6 separate regions of the Homo sapiens genome follow, and regions 1, 2, 4, 5 and 6 are each reported to be linked to region 3. Evidence: microRNA targets listed by miRTarBase, many of them from high-throughput screens and not tested one by one. Region 3 holds a microRNA gene; each other region holds the end of a gene's coding sequence.

What was found. Region 3 holds the annotated microRNA hsa-miR-3180-3p (UGGGGCGGAGCUUCCGGAGGCC, at 1,289-1,310, opposite strand). A microRNA usually pairs through its seed, bases 2 to 8, with sites in the 3' UTR of a target mRNA and lowers its output. Matches are read on the target gene's strand: a 7mer-m8 pairs with bases 2 to 8, a 7mer-A1 pairs with bases 2 to 7 and ends in A, and an 8mer does both.
Region 1: the mRNA of SLITRK5 is a reported target of hsa-miR-3180-3p. Seed matches in the 3' UTR shown: 7mer-m8 at 697-703 and 7mer-m8 at 808-814.
Region 2: miRTarBase lists SLC9A7 as a target of hsa-miR-3180-3p. The part of its 3' UTR that is shown has no 7-base or 8-base seed match.
Region 4: the mRNA of NEUROD2 is a reported target of hsa-miR-3180-3p. Seed matches in the 3' UTR shown: 7mer-m8 at 610-616, 7mer-m8 at 1,484-1,490, 7mer-m8 at 1,535-1,541 and 7mer-m8 at 1,609-1,615.
Region 5: the mRNA of ST7L is a reported target of hsa-miR-3180-3p. Seed matches in the 3' UTR shown: 7mer-A1 at 1,151-1,157.
Region 6: miRTarBase lists POGLUT3 as a target of hsa-miR-3180-3p. Seed matches in the 3' UTR shown: 7mer-m8 at 1,726-1,732.

Annotation. Positions count from the first base shown.
Region 1 is chr13:87,677,957-87,681,111 of GRCh38, forward strand. It overlaps SLITRK5 (SLIT and NTRK like family member 5), which reads left to right. Exons shown (of 2, transcript NM_001384609.1): 2 at 1-1,660. The coding sequence ends at 309. LOC112268106 (a long non-coding RNA gene) reads left to right here and starts at 1,984. Exons shown (of 3, transcript XR_002957486.2): 1 at 1,984-2,146.
Region 2 is chrX:46,604,247-46,607,401 of GRCh38, forward strand. It overlaps SLC9A7 (solute carrier family 9 member A7), which reads right to left. Exons shown (of 17, transcript NM_001257291.2): 17 at 1-2,957. The coding sequence ends at 2,706. Among named protein-coding and RNA genes, the nearest start is that of CHST7, 32 kb to the left of the region's middle.
Region 3 is chr16:16,308,091-16,311,245 of GRCh38, reverse strand. It overlaps MIR3180-2 (microRNA 3180-2), which reads right to left and starts at 1,367; the gene lies at 1,280-1,367. The region is part of intron 1 of LOC105371099 (a long non-coding RNA gene); the gene reads left to right. It also overlaps the pseudogene LOC131696449 and the pseudogene PKD1P1.
Region 4 is chr17:39,602,866-39,606,020 of GRCh38, reverse strand. NEUROD2 (neuronal differentiation 2) reads left to right here. Exons shown (of 2, transcript NM_006160.4): 2 at 1-2,253. The coding sequence ends at 570. Among named protein-coding and RNA genes, the nearest start is that of NEUROD2, 3.5 kb to the left of the region's middle.
Region 5 is chr1:112,523,178-112,526,177 of GRCh38, forward strand. ST7L (suppression of tumorigenicity 7 like) reads right to left here. Exons shown (of 15, transcript NM_017744.5): 15 at 337-2,934. The coding sequence ends at 2,836. It overlaps WNT2B (Wnt family member 2B), which reads left to right. Exons shown (of 5, transcript NM_024494.3): 5 at 1-3,000. Among named protein-coding and RNA genes, the nearest start is that of WNT2B, 16 kb to the left of the region's middle.
Region 6 is chr11:108,472,336-108,475,335 of GRCh38, forward strand. It overlaps POGLUT3 (protein O-glucosyltransferase 3), which reads right to left. Exons shown (of 8, transcript NM_153705.5): 8 at 1-2,617. The coding sequence ends at 2,492. Among named protein-coding and RNA genes, the nearest start is that of C11orf65, 6.3 kb to the left of the region's middle. RefSeq lists an enhancer at 1,130-1,274 and a cis regulatory region at 1,202.

The sequences.
Region 1 (3,155 bases), not on the chromosome of region 3:
GGCATTTTAGAACCAGACAAACACTGCTCCACCACCCCCGCCGGCAATAGCCTCCCGGAATATCCCAAATTCCCGTGCAGCCCCGCTGCTTACACTTTCTCCCCCAACTATGACCTGAGACGCCCCCATCAGTATTTGCACCCGGGGGCAGGGGACAGCAGGCTACGGGAACCGGTGCTCTACAGCCCCCCGAGTGCTGTCTTTGTAGAACCCAACCGGAACGAATATCTGGAGTTAAAAGCAAAACTAAACGTTGAGCCGGACTACCTCGAAGTGCTGGAAAAACAGACCACGTTTAGCCAGTTCTAAAAGCAAAGAAACTCTCTTGGAGCTTTTGCATTTAAAACAAACAAGCAAGCAGACACACACAGTGAACACATTTGATTAATTGTGTTGTTTCAACGTTTAGGGTGAAGTGCCTTGGCACGGGATTTCTCAGCTTCGGTGGAAGATACGAAAAGGGTGTGCAATTTCCTTTAAAATTTACACGTGGGAAACATTTGTGTAAACTGGGCACATCACTTTCTCTTCTTGCGTGTGGGGCAGGTGTGGAGAAGGGCTTTAAGGAGGCCAATTTGCTGCGCGGGTGACCTGTGAAAGGTCACAGTCATTTTTGTAGTGGTTGGAAGTGCTAAGAATGGTGGATGATGGCAGAGCATAGATTCTACTCTTCCTCTTTTGCTTCCTCCCCCTCCCCCGCCCCTGCCCCACCTCTCTTTCTCCCCTTTTAAGCCATGGGTGGGTCTAACTGGCTTTTGTGGAGAAATTAGCACACCCCAACTTTAATAGGAAATTTGTTCTCTTTTTCCGCCCCTCTCCTTCTCTCCTCCCCTCCCCTCCCTTCTCATTCCTTTTCTTTGTTTTTAAAGGATGTGTTTGTATGCATTCTGGACATTTGAATTAAAAAAAAAGTATTGTGATCCTGTAAAGGATCACCATAGATGTGGACAAATCATTAAAATTACAGAGCTATATGATCCATAATTGATTAGTCAAAATAACTTATTGATGAAATATACAAATATTTTATTGTAGCACCTATTTTTATATGCACATTTAGCATTCCTCTTTCCTTCACTATTTAGCCTATGATTTTGCAGAGGTGTCACACTGTATTAGGATCTGCATTTCTAAAACTGACGTGGTATCAGGAAGGCATTTTCAATCATTCAAAATGTGGAGAATTTAATGGCTAAATCTTTAAAAGCCAATGCAACCCACCCAATTGAATCTGCATTTTCTTTTAAGAAAACAGAGCTGATTGTATCCCAATGTATTTTAAAAAATAGGGCAATTGATTGGGCCATTCCGAGAGAATTGTTTGCAAGTTTTGGGTTTTATTAGAAAATATTTGAAAGTATTTTTATTAATGAACCAAAATGACATGTTCATTTGACTACTATTGTAGCCGATTTTCGATTGTTTAACCAAACCCAGTTGCATTTGTACAGATCCACGTGTACTGGCACCTCAGAAGACCAAATCATGGACTGTACAAGTCTCTATACAATGTCTTTATCCCTGTGGGCAGCAAGCAATGATGATAATGACAAACAGGATATCTGTAAGATGGGGCTACTGTTGTTACAGTCTCATATGTATCCCAGCACATGTAATTTTTTAAATAGTTTCTGAATAAACACTTGATAACTATGTCAAATATGAGGGATGGAAGTAATGATTACTTAAGGTGCAAAAGACTTAACTATGTGTGATTGATAGAATCTCCATCATTAACAATTTAGGAAATAGTTCCTAAACTTTATTCCTAATACAAAATGTGTTTCCCCTAATTAGCAAAATTGTAAAGTATATAGTATATATATAGTATATAGTATATATAGTATATAGTATATATATAGTATATAGTATATATATAGTATATATATAGTATATATAGTATATATGTATATATATAGTATATATAGTATATATATAGTATATAGTATATATATAGTATATAGTATATATATACTATATATAGTATATATATATATAACATACATGACATATATAAGTAATTTATTCCTTTGTTGGTTCAGGGAAGTATGATTTTCTAAATGTGTCGCTTAATGTGTTTATTAATGCAGTTTCAATTATATACACTCTTTCCTTACTGAAGTATTCATCTACTACGTGGAGCATGGTAAGTAATATATCGCATATTCACTTTTCTCTTAATACAATGTAATTGTCATATCAGTATTATTTATTCAGTCTACAGTTTTCCATAGTTTTCATATTTTTAATTTGTGTAAAACTACCTTCAACAGTTATGATGGATTCCTTATCTAAAGTTGATCAGTATTCTAAATGCTCAAAATGGTGTATATGAGCTCGTCATCTTTGAATAAGGTTTTCTAGTGAGTTTAGACACAATTTAAGGATAAGAAATGTTTCAATTATGTGCTTCATTGCTATAGGTGGATCTCCCCATAGTTTCACCTGGAATTTGTACAATATCAAGGGCTGTTCATGAACTTTGTGTTTAAAGAACAATTTCCATGGCATTCTGCCACAAAGAGGCAGCATTCACCCATGAGAAAATTGACAGTAACTACTTGAATTCAGGTTGAACAGGTGGTACCAGTTTCCCGGAGGATTAAAAAAAAAACAAATTGTAATGCTACATTGACCAAGTACAGTAAGCTGTTCATATTCTTTGCAACATTTTCCTTTCTAATTTTTTTTTCAAAGGGGAAAGGAATAAGCTTAATAATGTCATGGTATTATCATGAAGAAAAGTGCATTGCTTGCTCTTCATCTACCTCCTCTATATTAGATCCAAGATTAGAAAAGAAAAAAAAAATACTAGCATTTGACTTCAAAATTGAGATTGGTATTATTCTTCACAGCAGCAGGAAGTTATTTTTTTAATGTCAGTATCACTTCCTCAACCTTATTATATATAGATATGACAGTTTTATAAATTATAAAATATAAATGTAAAGTGGAATCCTCCATGTAACTTAGTTTTATTTCTTAATTGGTGCATAAAATAAAAAGATAAGAATTACATAAAATTAATGACTTAGTTCTGGGCAATATAAGTAACTTTCAAAGAAAGTTTAGTGATGTATTTTTCAAAGATTTACAAAATTTTATTGTAAAACCAGCATTATTTTACATCATTTTGTCACATATACTCCCTTTAG
Region 2 (3,155 bases), not on the chromosome of region 3:
TCTCTGGCTGTGGGGTGTAGGTCTTATTCTTAAGTCCTTCACTAGCCTAGTTGACCCTGAGGGCTCATGGGTTTGGATAGGTTGTTTAGCATTTTTCAAACTTCCAAAGCCCATGGATGACCATAAAATCAAAATGGACTTTATTGTAGATAAAAAGGAAAGAGGAGAATAAAAATCATTCAACTGTATTTTTTTTTTTTTTTTGAGGCAGGGTCTCATTCTGTTGCCCAGACTGGATTGCAGTGGCATGATCTCAGCTCATCGCAACCTCTGCCTCTTGGGCTCAAGCAATCCTCCCACCTCAGCCTCCCAAGTAGCTAGAACTACAGGCATGTGCCATCATGCCTGGCTCATTTTTGTATTTCTGTAGAGACAGGGTTTTGCCATGTTGCCCAGTCTGGTCTTGAACTCCTGAGCTCAAGTGATCCTCCTGCCTCAGCCTCCCAAAGTGTTGGGATTACAGGCATAAGCCACTGTGCCCGGTCTCAATTTTATTTTATTGAACCATATGAAATTGCCACTCCTGTTTTTACAAAATGGTCGAATATCAGCAAACTCATATGGCTCAACCTAATTAAATACGTATTTTCCTGATTTGCACAAATTATCAATTCAAACACAAAGTTGTGAAGCAATGTCTTATTTAAAAATTAAGCATTAAACATGCGAATTGAGAAGATTAAATGACTGATTTCACTACGGGTGGACTAGACTGGGACACAATATTTTGTCTTCCATCATAAGAAAAACTGGCCAGTATGGTGAAACCCCGTCTCTACTAAAAAATACAAAAAATTAGCCAGGCGTGGTGGCGCGTGCCTGTAATCCCAGCTACTCAGGAGGCGGAGGCAAGAGAATCGCTTGAACCCGGGAGGCGGAGGTTGCAGTAAGCCGAGATCGCGCCACTGCACTCCAGCCTGGGTGACACAGCGAGACTCCATCTCAAAAAAAAAAAAAAAAAGGAAAGAAAGAAAAAAAGAAAAGCCCACGTTATTGAAAGCATTTTTTAGAAATTGGGTTGCCAAAAATAAGCTAGCACTGAAGCACAGAGACATTAAGAGAAACTCAAACTTTTCCCGAGAGGTCTTTCTGTATTTCAGCACTACAGGTGTGGGCAGACAGAACAGCTCATCCAGAAAGAATCCAAACTGAAAACCTAACTTTCAAATCACACCCACATGTTAAGCTGGTGCAGCAGCCTCCCCAGATACAAGGAAAATGACCCTTCTCTGCATGGCACTCAGTGGTGTAAAGACACTCGGACTCTTAAGCTTATAGAAGACAGAGCTTTCTAGTGGGCTGAAAATACTTAATGTTCCATTGTTTGCCCTCTGATTCCTCAGGTGGCCACTGAAATCTCATGCATTCGTCGGCTCAAAGTTTGGAATTCTACCTAGTCTTGAGACTACTATCTTGTATTTCTTTGCAGTAATTTTTTTGCATTGAGATTTCTTTCCCTCTGAATTCTAGCCTGGTGCCTTGTAGGTTTCTTGCTGCCTTCCCTTTCCCAGATAATAGCATCCTACAAAATTTGGTGTTATTTCTAAACCCAGAGTAGATACTTCAGTCCTAGTGATTATTTCCCTAGGCTGTCAGCTCATATGGTAGCCCTCAAAAGTTGAATGCTGGCCAGGTGCAGTGGCTCACACCTGTAATCCCAGCACTTTGGGAGGCCAAGGGAGGTGGATCACGAGGTCAGGAGTTTGACACCAGCCTGGGCAACATGGTGAAACCCCATCTCTACCAAAAATACAAAAAATTAGCTGGGCATGGTGGTGGGCACCTGTAATCCCAGCTAATCAGGAGGCTGAGGCAGGAGAATCACTTGAACCCGTGAGGCAGAGGTTGCAGTGAGCCAAGACCACGCCACTGCACTCCAGCCTGGGTGACAGAGTGAAACACCATCTCAACAAAAAAAAAAAGTTGAATGCTTTTTGCAGTGATACCATCATCAGTTTCTAAATACCTCCTTTCCTCAGATTAATCAAAAAATAAGAGTATAACACTATTTGCCTTTGGTTTTAAACATTTCATAACTACTTCTTTATGGATATAGCCAGAGAAGGAACTATAATTCTTCGTTCCATGTTGAAATGTTCGTGGATGTATTTTCAAATCTTCAGTCTAGAAAAAACACAGGCAGCATAAAGTCAGGAATCCTGATATGAGGTTGCAGTCAAGCAGACTTCGTTGCCAGAGCCTCCAAATTGCTTTTTCATGTTTTCTGTCCCATTTAACACCAAGTTTCCCATAATCCTTGGAGTTCCGATCTCAATTGCCTTCCTTCTCTTTAACTTGATAATTCTATGGTCAGCTTGACTTGCACTGCTGTGTACTGAGATGCAGCCTCTCATGGGAGGAATCCCCCCACCCAGCACCTGCCTCGCCTTGTTCAGATACTGCAGGTGAATGAATTAGGAGACCATTAAAGCATGCTATTTTTTTTTGTTTGTTTAACTCTGAAACAGCGCACTACTATGTGAAAAAAGTGGGAATAGGTCTACGTTTGTCTGAATTTAGAGACACTTTTGCCTCACCATCTGCATTGTGAGTTAAATTTTAAGTGTTACAATAGCTTCAGACCCCAATAAAATAGAAGAGTTAGTTCAATCTAGTCACTGCCCCACCTCCAACAACACTAGGGCTTGCAGCTGTCCTCACCCCATCGGGAGCCTACCCCATCGCGCCAGGGCTTGGGGGGAAAGTCAAGCATTATCTTCCAGGGGAAACACTAGGCGGGTGCCCCGGCTCGAAACCTTCTGGTCTCCCATTCCCAGGTCTCGCTCCAGCACTTCCTCCGAGCTGCTCTTCGTTCTCCGGCTGCCCTCCAGACTCGTGGAGGCGGTGTGCGAACTTGAGGAGCCATTTGCAGTCACTGTGCTGTCCCCGTAGGTCAATGTCAGGTCGCCTTCGGTCAGGATGAAATCAGAGTCTTCCTCTCTCAGTGGCTCTTGGTTCTGAAAAGTGCAACCAACAACAACAACAAAAATGAGAGACTGATATCTTCCAGGTTTGGCACCAACCCCAATCCCAATCCCAACTCCTCATCTGAAAACTGGGGACTATGAAACTTGCCTGCCTTGAGCCTCTAGCGTGGTAACTGGATGTAAACTGTAGAGGGCCGGGCACGGTTGCCAGGACTAGGACTTAGAATA
Region 3 (3,155 bases):
TTTTATCTCCCGAAAGCGAACATGACAAGGCTTTAACCCCCCACGGCAATCCGCCCTCACCCCTGTTCTCAGGATAGCCTTGGAACCCAATAGCAGAGCGCCTGAGGCCCTTCATGACCCCAGCCCACCCGCGAGCCCACCTCCCACCCTGCCCCTACCCCTCACACCTCCCGTGGCCAGCCTCCAGCCTCACGGTCTTTGCTCACACCGTTCACCCCCCTTCTTCTGGACCCACCTCATCGCCCCTTCCTAAGCATCAGCCCAATTCTTGCACATCCATCAAATCCTTGTCCAGACACCTCCTGGAACTCTTCCCTGCAGCCCCCTACAGCCATCCCCATCTCTCCGGGTACCCCGCAGCCCCAGGCCGAATCCCAATTCCTCTCCAATTAGCGACTGTTTGTCCTCCCAGCTGAGCGCGGCCTCCGCGCCCCGCCCCCGCTGGCGTCCGCAGAGCCCCCGGGTGGGGACGTCTGTCTCCAGACCCGGGGTTTTTCGGCTCCCCGGGGCCGTGCCAACCGCGGCTCCAGGCGTTCCTTATTTAGCAGGGCCGCTGTGCCGCGCCGGAGCCTCGCCCTGGGAGCGTCCTGGCCCGCGTCCTGCTTCCCGTCCCGGGCCAGGGAACGCGCCCACGCCCGCCCGTCCCGCGGCCTCTCCCGGGTGCCGCTGGGCCCGCTACTCACAGCGCTGTGGCGTCCGCGGGGATGCGCAGCGCGGGACCGAGCGTCCGCAGCCCGCGGCCCGCGGCCCGAGCAGTTGACGCGGCAGGCGGCGCCGGGCGCTAGGCCGCAGAGGCAGGGGGGCTCGCAAGGCCCGCAGCCGCGCCCGGGGCCCCCCGCCAGCGCCCCGAGCCACAGGCCCAGGCCCAGGGCCAGCGCCAGGCGGGCGGGCGCGGCGGGCGGCATCGTTAGGGCAGCGCGCGCATGGCCCCGCCGTCCCCAGGCCCGCCCGCGCGCGGAGGCCGCGGCTCAGGCGGGGCCGGCGGACGGCATGGCGGGCGCGGGGCTGGATGGGGCTGCGGCCGCGACCTGCTGCTGAGCGACGCCCGCTCGGGGCTCGGGGCCAGGCCGCTCCGGGAGCTCGGCCGCCCGCTCGGACGTTGGCGCTGCAGTGCGGGCCCCGCCGCGGCTCCTCCTCCTCCTCCCCGCGCGGCGCAGGGCGGACGGGGCGAGGGGGGGCGGGGCGGGTGCAGGCTCCGCCCCCTTCGCCACAGCGCGACCGGGCCAGCGATGAGGGACTGGCATCCGGAGGCTTCACCCTCCGCTCCACAGGGTCGGCAGCAGGGCGGGGCCTCCGGAAGCTCCGCCCCACGCTTTCCCGGGGCGCATGCGACGTGGGGCGGAGCGTCTGGAAGCTCCGCCCGTCGCACTGTAGAGTCGGCCGAGGCGCACGAGGTATTTTTCACGCTCCGCCCCTCTGCAGGCTAAAGTGCGTGGGCGGGAAGCGGTGGGCAGGGTGCCATCTGGCTCCGCCCTTCTCCTGTGGTGTGGGCCAGGCGGCGGCTTCCTCCTCCTGCAGCAGCCACAGGCTCCACTCTGATCCTTCTCCCGCGGCATGGATCCTTCTCCCGCGGCGTGGATCCTTCTCCCGCAATCTCCGTGCGCGTCCCCAGTCAGTACCCGCAGCCTCCCGACGCACCCGCTGGCTCCAAGCCTCCCTACCCCAGGTTTCCTGGCTAAGAGAGAGACAGAGGGAGAGAGGGGGAAGAGAGAGAACAGGCAATGGGAGGTTGATGGTGAGAGCTTATTGAAAGACAAGAGGGAGGAAACCCACATCCTTCATTCCCCATCCATTCATTTATTGCCTTATTTATTCCATTGAATCTTCACAGCTCTAGAAAAAGTGTGCTACAATTATTCCCTTTATTAAATGAGGTCACTGAGGCACAGTTTAAGAAATTTGCCAGCAGGGCACAGTGGGTCACTCCGGTAATCCCAGAACTTTGAGAGGGGGAGGAAGGTGGATCCCTTGAGCCCAGGAGTTGGAGACCAGCCTGGCCAACATGGCGAGACCCCGTTTCTACAAAAATTAGCCAAAATTAGCCAAACTGGCTCACACTTGTAGTCCCAGGTACTCGAGAGGCTGAGGCCGGAGGAGCGTGTGAGCCCAGGAGGCAGTGGCTGCGCTGAGCCGTGATTGTGCCACTGCACTCCAGCCTGGGCAACAGAGTAAGACCCTGTCTCGAAAAAAAAAAAATGGAAAAAAGAAAAAAAGAACTGGCTGGGAGTGGTGGCTCATGCCTGTAATCCCAGCACTTTGGGAGGCCGAGGTGGGTGGATCACCTGAGGTCAGGAGTTTGAGACCAACCTGACCAACAAGGTGAAATCCCATTTCTACTAAAAATACAAAAATTAGCCAGGCGTGGTGGCAGGTGCCTGTAGTCCCAGCTACTAGGGAGGCTGAGACAGGAGAATAGCTTGAACCTGGGAGGCAGAGGTTGCAGTGAGCCGAGATTGCACCACTGCACTCCAGACTGGGCAATACAGTGAGACTCCGTCTCAAAAAAACAAAAAAAATCCTACCACATGTGCTCCACCAAGCTCTGTCTCCAAGGTGGCCTTGGAAGCCACATGGGGAAGGTGGCAGAGACTCTAGGAGCCTGAGCAGAAATCCAGATGATTATGAAAAATGCAGACCTACCCATCCTTATTCACCTGGGACCACCGTGAACTATATCATAAGAAATAAACCCCTATTGTACATACATGCACCATTCGAGTTGGGTCTATTTGTTACAGCAGTTTAGCCAACCCTAATCCACATATACAGTGTCAACAGTGGCTGAGATGACATGTTGCACAGACATGAGAGTCAGAAAGACCTGAGTTCAAGTCCCAGTGATGACATTTACTATCTGTGTGACCTTGAAAAGCTGCCTAACTACTCTCAGACCGTTTCCTCATCAGTTTGTTTTGAGAGTCAAATGAGAAAATTACTAAAAAGCCCTTAGCACTGCATCTAAGATGGGGAAGAGACAGTCAATGAATTCAAGTTTCCTGAAGCCCAGTTGCATCCCTGCCCTGCCCTGGGCTCTGAGAGACAGTTGCCGAAGCTAGTGTTAAAGTGAACTAAATATGGCCTGAGTGGGACTTCGTACTTCTATAGTTGAGTCCTTGTGGACAAATTGCAACCTAGCTTAATAGGTAGACAAGATT
Region 4 (3,155 bases), not on the chromosome of region 3:
AAGGGTCTGTCGCAGCCCACCACCAATCTGGTGGCCGGCTGTCTGCAGCTCAACTCTCGCAACTTCCTCACGGAGCAAGGCGCCGACGGTGCCGGCCGCTTCCACGGCTCGGGCGGCCCGTTCGCCATGCACCCCTACCCGTACCCGTGCTCGCGCCTGGCGGGCGCACAGTGCCAGGCGGCCGGCGGCCTGGGCGGCGGCGCGGCGCACGCCCTGCGGACCCACGGCTACTGCGCCGCCTACGAGACGCTGTATGCGGCGGCAGGCGGTGGCGGCGCGAGCCCGGACTACAACAGCTCCGAGTACGAGGGCCCGCTCAGCCCCCCGCTCTGTCTCAATGGCAACTTCTCACTCAAGCAGGACTCCTCGCCCGACCACGAGAAAAGCTACCACTACTCTATGCACTACTCGGCGCTGCCCGGTTCGCGGCCCACGGGCCACGGGCTAGTCTTCGGCTCGTCGGCTGTGCGCGGGGGCGTCCACTCGGAGAATCTCTTGTCTTACGATATGCACCTTCACCACGACCGGGGCCCCATGTACGAGGAGCTCAATGCGTTTTTTCATAACTGAGACTTCGCGCCGGCTCCCTTCTTTTTCTTTTGCCTTTGCCCGCCCCCCTGTCCCCAGCCCCCAGAGCGCAGGGACACCCCCATCCTACCCCGGCGCCGGGCGCGGGGAGCGGGCCACCGGTCCTGCCGCTCTCCTGGGGCAGCGCAGTCCTGTTACCTGTGGGTGGCCTGTCCCAGGGGCCTCGCTTCCCCCAGGGGACTCGCCTTCTCTCTCCCCAAGGGGTTCCCTCCTCCTCTCTCCCAAGGAGTGCTTCTCCAGGGACCTCTCTCCGGGGGCTCCCTGGAGGCACCCCTCCCCCATTCCCAATATCTTCGCTGAGGTTTCCTCCTCCCCCTCCTCCCTGCAGGCCCAAGGCGTTGGTAAGGGGGCAGCTGAGCAATGGAACGCGTTTCCCCCTCTCATTATTATTTTAAAAACAGACACCCAGCTGCCGAGGCAAAAAGGAGCCAGGCGCTCCCTCTTTCTTGAAGAGGGTAGAAGTTAGGGCGCCGGAGCCCGGGCCTGGAACGCCCTCACCCCCAACCTCCAGTCTCCGCGTTTTGCGATTTTAATTTTGGCGGGAGGGGAAGTGGATTGAGAGGAAAGAGAGAGGCCAAGACAATTTGTAACTAGAATCCGTTTTTCCCTTTTCCTTTTTTTAAACAAACAAACATACAAAAAAAAAAAAAAAAAAAAAAAAAAAAAAAAAAAAAAAAGCTAAGAGGCGACGGAAGCCGAACGCAGAGTCCGGATCGGAGAGAAAACGCAGTAAGGACTTTTAGAAGCAATAAAAGGCAAAAAAAACAAAAAACAAAAAAACAAACAAAAAAAAACCACTACTACCAATAATCAAAGACACAAATATCTATGCAAGGAGGCTCCACTGAGCCTCGCGGCCCGGCCCGGCCCCGGGATGCCCCGCCCGGCCTGCGGGCCGCCCCGCCCGAGCGCGGATCTGTGCACTTTGGTGAAGTGGGGGCCCGCGCCGCCCCCTCCCCCTCCCCAGGTTCTTACAATCAGTGACTCGGAGATTTGGGGCCCCAGTGCCACTGCCCTCCCCCGCCCCGTCCCCGTTGTGCGTCATGCTGTTTTTTAAAAACCTGTTTCCAAATTTGTATGGAATGGCAAACTGTTGGGGGGTCGGTTTGGGGAGGGAGGGTTTGCATGAAAGACACACGCACACCACACCGCACGCACAAGCAGGCCCGGCGCCGGCGTCCGGGGGGCAGAAGGAGGTGAGCTCGCCGGCTCCTCCTCCCCGCGGCCATTCTGTCCCCTCCTGGGGTGAGGGGTGGGGATGGAGACCTGGGGGCAGCCCCACCCCTGCCCGGACTGTGCCTCGGTGGGTGCCACCTGGCGATTTCCGGTGTCTGGAGAGAGTATTTTTTGGTCCAAGGAGTCCTCTTGGCTTTAGCTGGTGGGTGGGCGGGGAGAGGTCTGAGGGCTCCTACTGGAGGTTCCCCCAAAAAGGGGCAAAAGGAGACCCTCTGCCCACCGGAGGCAGGGGATCAGGCATCCAAATACACGATGCAAAAATGCAATCCCACAGGCGACACACCCACACACTCACCCACACACACGCAATTTTACCTTCCTCTTGTAGCGAAGATGAAACTCCCGTCGGACACCCGAAGTGCATTGCGTGTTTCTGTTCAGTTTAATGACGATTAATAAATATTTATGTAAATGAGATGCAAAGCCGGACCGGTTTCTCACGGTGGCCTCATTTCATTGAGGGGGGAGAGAAGGTTTGAGCTGGGGCTGGGGTGATGAAGGCAGAGTGTCAAGTGACTGTGCAGAGGCCAAACAGAGGGACCCTGGACATTCTTGGGTAGTATTCTCTCCCTAACCACCCCCCATACACCCACTGGGCTATACTAGCTACCCCTCCCAGACCCAACCCAGGCTCGCACCTTCCCAGCACTAAAGCACTGATATCCTTACACTTCTTCATTCCTGAACATGCACAGGCACCTCCCTTGAAAACAAAATACCTTTTCATCACTGAAAAATGATCAAGTTGGGAACAGCCAGTCATTTTACAACTCTCTGCCCACTGTTGCAAAAAGCAAGTGGGCAGAGACAAAGAGACAACCATTTGAATCAGACAGGGGTATTTTTAAACAAAACAAAACAAAACAAAACAAAACATTATAAGGTCATGAAGATGAAATATTAATGAGGGAGGCCCCTTTTTCATCTTAAAATTGTATTTCGGTGGACTCAGGGGAATCGGCCATTTTGGTCTCAGGAATGTTGACATGTTTAGGGGTGTGGACAAGGTTGGAGGAACACCCCTAGAGGTCTGTGAGGTGGCTGAGTCTGGGCGCCCACCCAGTAGAGAGGAGCCTAACCATGTACTCCCTGGGACAGGGCAGCAGGCGCCCACCCAGTCCAAATCTGGGCTGATTTCTTCCTGTCTGGTACAGTTCTGAACAGAGGGAACCCTAAGGGCTTAGAAGGGAGGAAGGGCACTGGGTGAGCATCTCCTGCTCAGACAATGTGGCCTCACAATTCTTTTTTCTCTGAACCTGAGAGGCAGGGGCAGCTCTTAACTGACTTCCCTGATAGAGTCCCTCCTACTCCCCCTGCTCAGCCCTCAGTGC
Region 5 (3,000 bases), not on the chromosome of region 3:
GTTCTCATCCCTGTGGAAGGAAATGGGCCTCTTCTGGCATCTCATGCTACTCTGTGCTTTTCCTTGGGCTCCAAATTCTAGCTCATAAAGATGCAAGTTTTGCAATTTCCTATAAATGGTTAAGAAAAGAGCAAGCTGTCCAGAGAGTGAGAAGTTTGAAAAGAGAGGTGCATAAGAGAGAAATGATGTCCATTTGAGCCCCACCACGGAGGTTATGTGGTCCCAAAAGGAATGATGGCCAAGCAATTAATTTTTCCTCCTAGTTCTTAGCTTGCTTCTGCATTGATTGGCTTTACACAACTGGCATTTAGTCTGCATTACACAAATAGACACTAATTTATTTGGAACAAGCAGCAAAATGAGAACTTTATTTGGTGCAGTCAGGGCTCCATTTAGTTCCCTCACTCTGCTTCTAATCACCCCTTCTCCCAGCCCTCTTCTATTTGATAGAGGTCTGTCCCTCAGATCAGCAATGTCTTAGCCCCTCTCCTCTCTTCCATTCCTTCCTGTTGGTACTCATTTCTTCTAACTTTTAATAAACATTTAGGTATAATACATTACAGTAAGTGCTATTTAGATACAAACTTAAAACATACTATATATTTTAAGGATCTAAGAATCCTTTAGAGAAGGCACATGACTGAAGTACCTCAGCTGCGCAGCCTGTAGCCAGTTTTTTTAATGTAAAAGTAAGAATGCCAGCCTTAACCTAGCCCTGCAGATAAAAGCTAACTTTTATTAATACCAGCCCTGAATAATGGCACTAATCCACACTCTTCCTTAGAGTGATGCTGGAAAAATAAAATCAGGGGCTTCAGATTAAAAAAAAAAACAAAAAACAAAAAACAAAAACAAACATTGCCTGGCCCTGAGGGTCTGTTTGCAAAACTTCTTGTAGATCTAATTTCTGAACACTCACTGCTTCATTTCTATTCCTCCTGTTGCAGGGAGTAATTTCTTCTCCTTTGTCTCACTTCCCTTATCAAGAACACCAACCAGTAAGTCTTTGCCAAATTCTCAGACCCACTCAGGACACGAGTCTCTACATGGCTTAACAGAAGAGAGATAATTAGGATTTTTTTTTCCTCAGTCTTTCTGAGGTTTTTATTTAAATGCACTCAGTGGTCATAGGGCAGAAGCTCAAGCTAGCTGGGGCGAAGGGAGGACGCCAGGGAGAGTATGTTTCTCATCCCTGGGAGGCATTCAGCCTAGCTCCTGCAGCCAAATTACAGCACCAGAGAACAATGTGATGCATTCCTGGGCAGGTCGGTGGGACCCTGGGCGCCTGGGCCTTGTGGAGAGAGGTGCCAGACACAGAGTTCTCCGTAAGCAATCCTGCAGAGCCGCCCCCTGGGTGCAGAAATGAAATACGGGAGAGCTTCACATTACACAGAGACCTGTAGCTCACACCTGGTTATTGATGGCCTTGGTGGAGGCCTCTGCCCCGACCCTCCACTTGGGAACTGCCTGCTACTACGGGGGTTGGGCATCTTTGAAGCAATGTTGGATAACAAGAAAGAGATGCTTCCTTTTCACTCTTTGCCCTCCCTGTCAGCCTGAGCACAACCATGAGGTTACACACACACACACAGAGGTGTACATATACAGACACATAGAGAACTTCTCTCAGGCTGCATAGGAGTTCTGCTCATCCTCCTCTCCCCAACAATTAAAAAAAAAAGCAATTAGATTTCGATCCAGTACTTCAAAAAGGATACCAATAGGGTCTGGCTTTAATCAAGGAATATCTACAAAGTCACATTACCAACCTGCAGGCAACTCTTTGGTTTGGGGACCAGAACTCCTCTGGTGGGTGGTTGGGGGAAGGATGCAGGAAGGGCATGGTGAGGAGAGATCAGTGGTGAAGAATTACCATCAAAGCAGAGTGGCTGAGACTGTATAAGTTCGCAAGGCTGGTTCATGCCAGAGATAGTGAGATGTGCACCCTATGTGCTGAGAATGATGGAGCAGTCTCCTATGACTGCATGGGGTATAACTGCCAAGCCTACTGCTCATGACCTGTGGTTGTTTTTAACTCTTAACTGGGTTAGAAAACTGGAGAGCTTTGGATTCCAGGGATGATCTCCATAAGAGAGAAGCACTGGAAAAGACCAAGTGGTGGCTTTATTAGGGTAAATATATCACAGTTGCTACAGTGAATTGAGCTTTCTCAGAAGCTATTATTTTCTTTGGGTGATTGGCAGGTATAGGGCAATAGCCAGTGGGGTGTCAGTAATATGCCCTGTCCCTGACCTCAAAGGTAAAGGGATAGAAAAGAGAGGGCGTTGACAAACTCATTTTCCCACTTCCCACTCATGGCTTATATTATCTCTGAGCATCTCGGTGGCTATTCCTCATTTACTTAAGATGTTTTAGTCATTCTGGATGTGCAAATGCAAGGCAAGCATTCTCCCACTGGCCCCCTAACGGTTAACTATCCTGGCTTAAAATTTTCCTTTGCTCACTTCCATTCTATGAGTATATCGATGGAGCAGCTGGACATTAGAGTTCTTTCTCTTTGACCAAAGGAGCCAAAATGCGGTGACTTGACTTCAACCCCAACAGCCCCTGTAAGTAGCCCTGGCCAAACAGAAAGGCTAAGCTGAATGAAGAAAAAAGGAAGACAATTTCATCTACAGTTGTCCTTTTTGACAGCTTCCAAGGGGGGTTTGCCTAGGAATAACAATATTCATAAGAAGCTTTTTCATATGCAAAATGCTTTAGCATATATGTAATCCTCACAACAACCCTGTGAGGTAGGGGTTACTGTCACTTTACAGATGCTGTTCAGAAAAATTTGGTGATTTGTCCAAGGTCACATGAACAGTGCGTGGCTCAGCCAGAACTCAAACCTAGGTCTTCTGACTTCAAATCCTGTGTATTCTCCTCAAAGCCTGAGGATGCCCAGGGTTGGGGGCACCAGAGTCCCAGCACCTTCAAAACAGAAATTGATACAAAATGTTCAAGCCCTGTAGGAGTCCCAGGACAGCCAAGAGAGTA
Region 6 (3,000 bases), not on the chromosome of region 3:
TATAGAAAGGTATAAAGCAAAAAGTAAGAATTCCCTTCACTCCATCTTCTCCTCAGATATTGGTGAATCTCCTCCCAAACTTTCAACCACATAGATGCATTTTTGTTTTCAAACCAGAAAGCCATTAACACTAACTCTTTAAAGGCTGCGGCTGAATTGGCGAGATGAAGAATTATGTAGATTAAGGCTGCTGTCTCCCTATAGAATTTTTTGAGGGATTCCACCTTTTTTTAAAGCACATCCTTCCTGTTCCACACACTGAATCTGCCTGGTTTGTCTCAACTTGCTTTTAACTATTAGGCCTGTTTGGCAGAGGCAATATAAATTTTTAAAAATGTAAGATGTTTAAAATGCCATTAGCCTTTAGCACCTGGAATTTGAGGCAGAAAGGTATGAGTTAGGCAACCTTTCTTGCCATAATCCCAGTTTTGACAAGCCTCAAACACAATGTACAATATTTAAGACACAAATTCATTAGGTATGGGCTCAGGACAGCTTGCTCTTATTTAATACTTGCGTGCTTGTGGTTTTGCACAATGGATGGGTATTAGAGTTTGCCTTGGATACTTGGCATTGATTAGACTGTTCTGAAATTTGGTTATGCTTAGTCAAAAAATTCTGTTTATTGTTCTTCAGCAAGAATAGATGTAACCACTTTAAAAATAGTTACATTGTTTTCCAGATTAAGTAAATATTTCAGTTAGGAGAATACATATTTTTATTTTTATTTTCAGTTTTTGAGATGGAGTCTCACTCTGTCACCCAGGCTGGAGTGCAGTGGTGTAATCTCAGCTCACTGCAACCTCTGCCTCCCAGGTTCAAGTGATTCTCCTGCCTCAGCCTCCCGAGTAGCTGGGATTACAGGCAAATGCCACCATGCCTGGCTAATTTTTGTATTTTTAGTAGAGACGGGGTTTCACCATGTTGGCCAGGCTGGTCTCAAACTCCTGACCTCAAAAGATCCGCCCATCTCGGCCTGCCAAAGTGCTGGGATTACAGGCGTGAGCCACTGCAACCGGCCAGAGTACATATTTTAAAATTTGGAATGAGGATAGCTCTTGTTTTAGAACATGCACTTTAGTGAACTGAACCTTGGACTGATGGTTACAAGGAGTATGTAATGAGCTTTCAGGCTATGAGTCCTAAATCCTGACCCTGTCCTAAAAGAGAAAGGAAATTTCCAAAGTCTTCATCGTAGCAACGACACCCACTGAAATAGAAAAGTGGTGGAGTGAGGAATGGATGCTTGCCTTTGTTCTTGGCCTATTATTAGTGAATCCCAAGATAGCAGGCTTCCTGAAGATTGTTGTAGAGGTTTTCAGTGTTTTCAAGGATCCCCTTTTCAGCTTAAAAATAATGAATGCCTTTCACCTGACTACAGTTATCTTTCACCTATTCAATATAGAGATAATGAATGATGCCTATAGCATACCTTCATCTATGTTAATAACTGTATTGTCTTTGATGGGTATACAACTCAGATAGATTTGGAATTACTAACTTAAGGTACAATTTCTCCTTAATGTTGTCTCGGGCTTTGGCAAAATTTAGTTTAAAGGATATGAGTAGTGCTTTAAAAAATATTCCCTCCACAGTCTCCATGCCACCTTTAATAACAGAGTCATTCTCTTCTTCCTTAAATATCCTTATCAGACCTTCTAAAAGGAAGCTGTTATTAATGAAAGCCAAAAGCAGCTTGTAAGAGGAGAAATTATGCAGTGACGGGGGGCGGGGGGACAACCCTGAACAAATATTTTCTCTTCATAATTGGAAGTGGAAGAGAAAAAGTGAACAGGGGATAGAAATAAACCAATAAAATATGTAAACCAATAAATATGTAAACAGTTTTGCAGAGGCTGATTTATATTTTAGCAAGTCTCTCTATCGGCTATGATCCCCAAGTTTTCTTTTTAGAGAAACTATGATGCTGATAATAGCAGTTTTTACGCAAAAGATATTAATATTCAATGATATTTGGTAATGCTTGTTCAAATACAGGTTGAACATTCCTCATACAAAAATCTAAAATCTGAAATACCCCAAAATCCAAAACTTTTTGAGTGCTGACACCACCACTTGGGTCGCTAAGATAGTGACACCTTTGCTTTCTGACAGTTCAATGTATACAAACTTTGTTTCATGCACAAATTATTAAAAATATTATATAAAATTACCTTCAGGGTATGTGAACAAGGTATATATAAAATATAAATGAATTTTGTGTTTAGACTTGGATCTCATCCCCAAGATACCTCATTATGTACATGCAAATATTCCCAAATCTTAAAAAATCTGAAGCCTGAAACACTCCTGGTCCTAAGCATTTCAGATGAGGGATACTCAACCAGTACTGCTATATCCATCTACATATATAAAGCCACCGGGAGAACTAGTCCACTTGGTGCAGTCTTCTATACTGTCCTTCACAGCTTAGATTCAATCTTTCCTTAAAGTGTAGCCGGGATACACAGGAGTGTGATTCTGGGCTGACTCAAAGTTCTTCTCTTGAAGGCTTTTTCCTGTGGCACTGGCAGATGGCTGTGCTATCTTCTGGCTGAGGAACAAGTTCCATTCCATCACGTACTTCGGGTTTGCTGGACTGGCGCTCGGCATATTTCTGAAACGTGGGTTTAAAGGGAACTGAAAGGTTAGTTCACACTGCATTCTGTTGACTCCCCCACCCACTCCCATCCGCAGTCACGCCATCTTTTCTAGTTGCTGTGTGTCTGCAGACTAAAACCAAAGGTCTGGTTTATTCCAGTCCTAAAGTTACATTTTAACTTTAGCTATCACAGGCACTAGTTATAATTCATAATCTAGCAAGAAACCCCAATCCACAATTTTATGTGTTGGTTGGAAGCCTCTACAAAAGGGATGCCAAGCCAGACGTCCCTACCTGAAACAAACAGCAGCTCTCAGCATTTATTTTCCACTTGTTATTGAATAATTAACTTTGTTGAATACTCAAGCCAGCAAACAAACAAGATAACCATCTGAAAA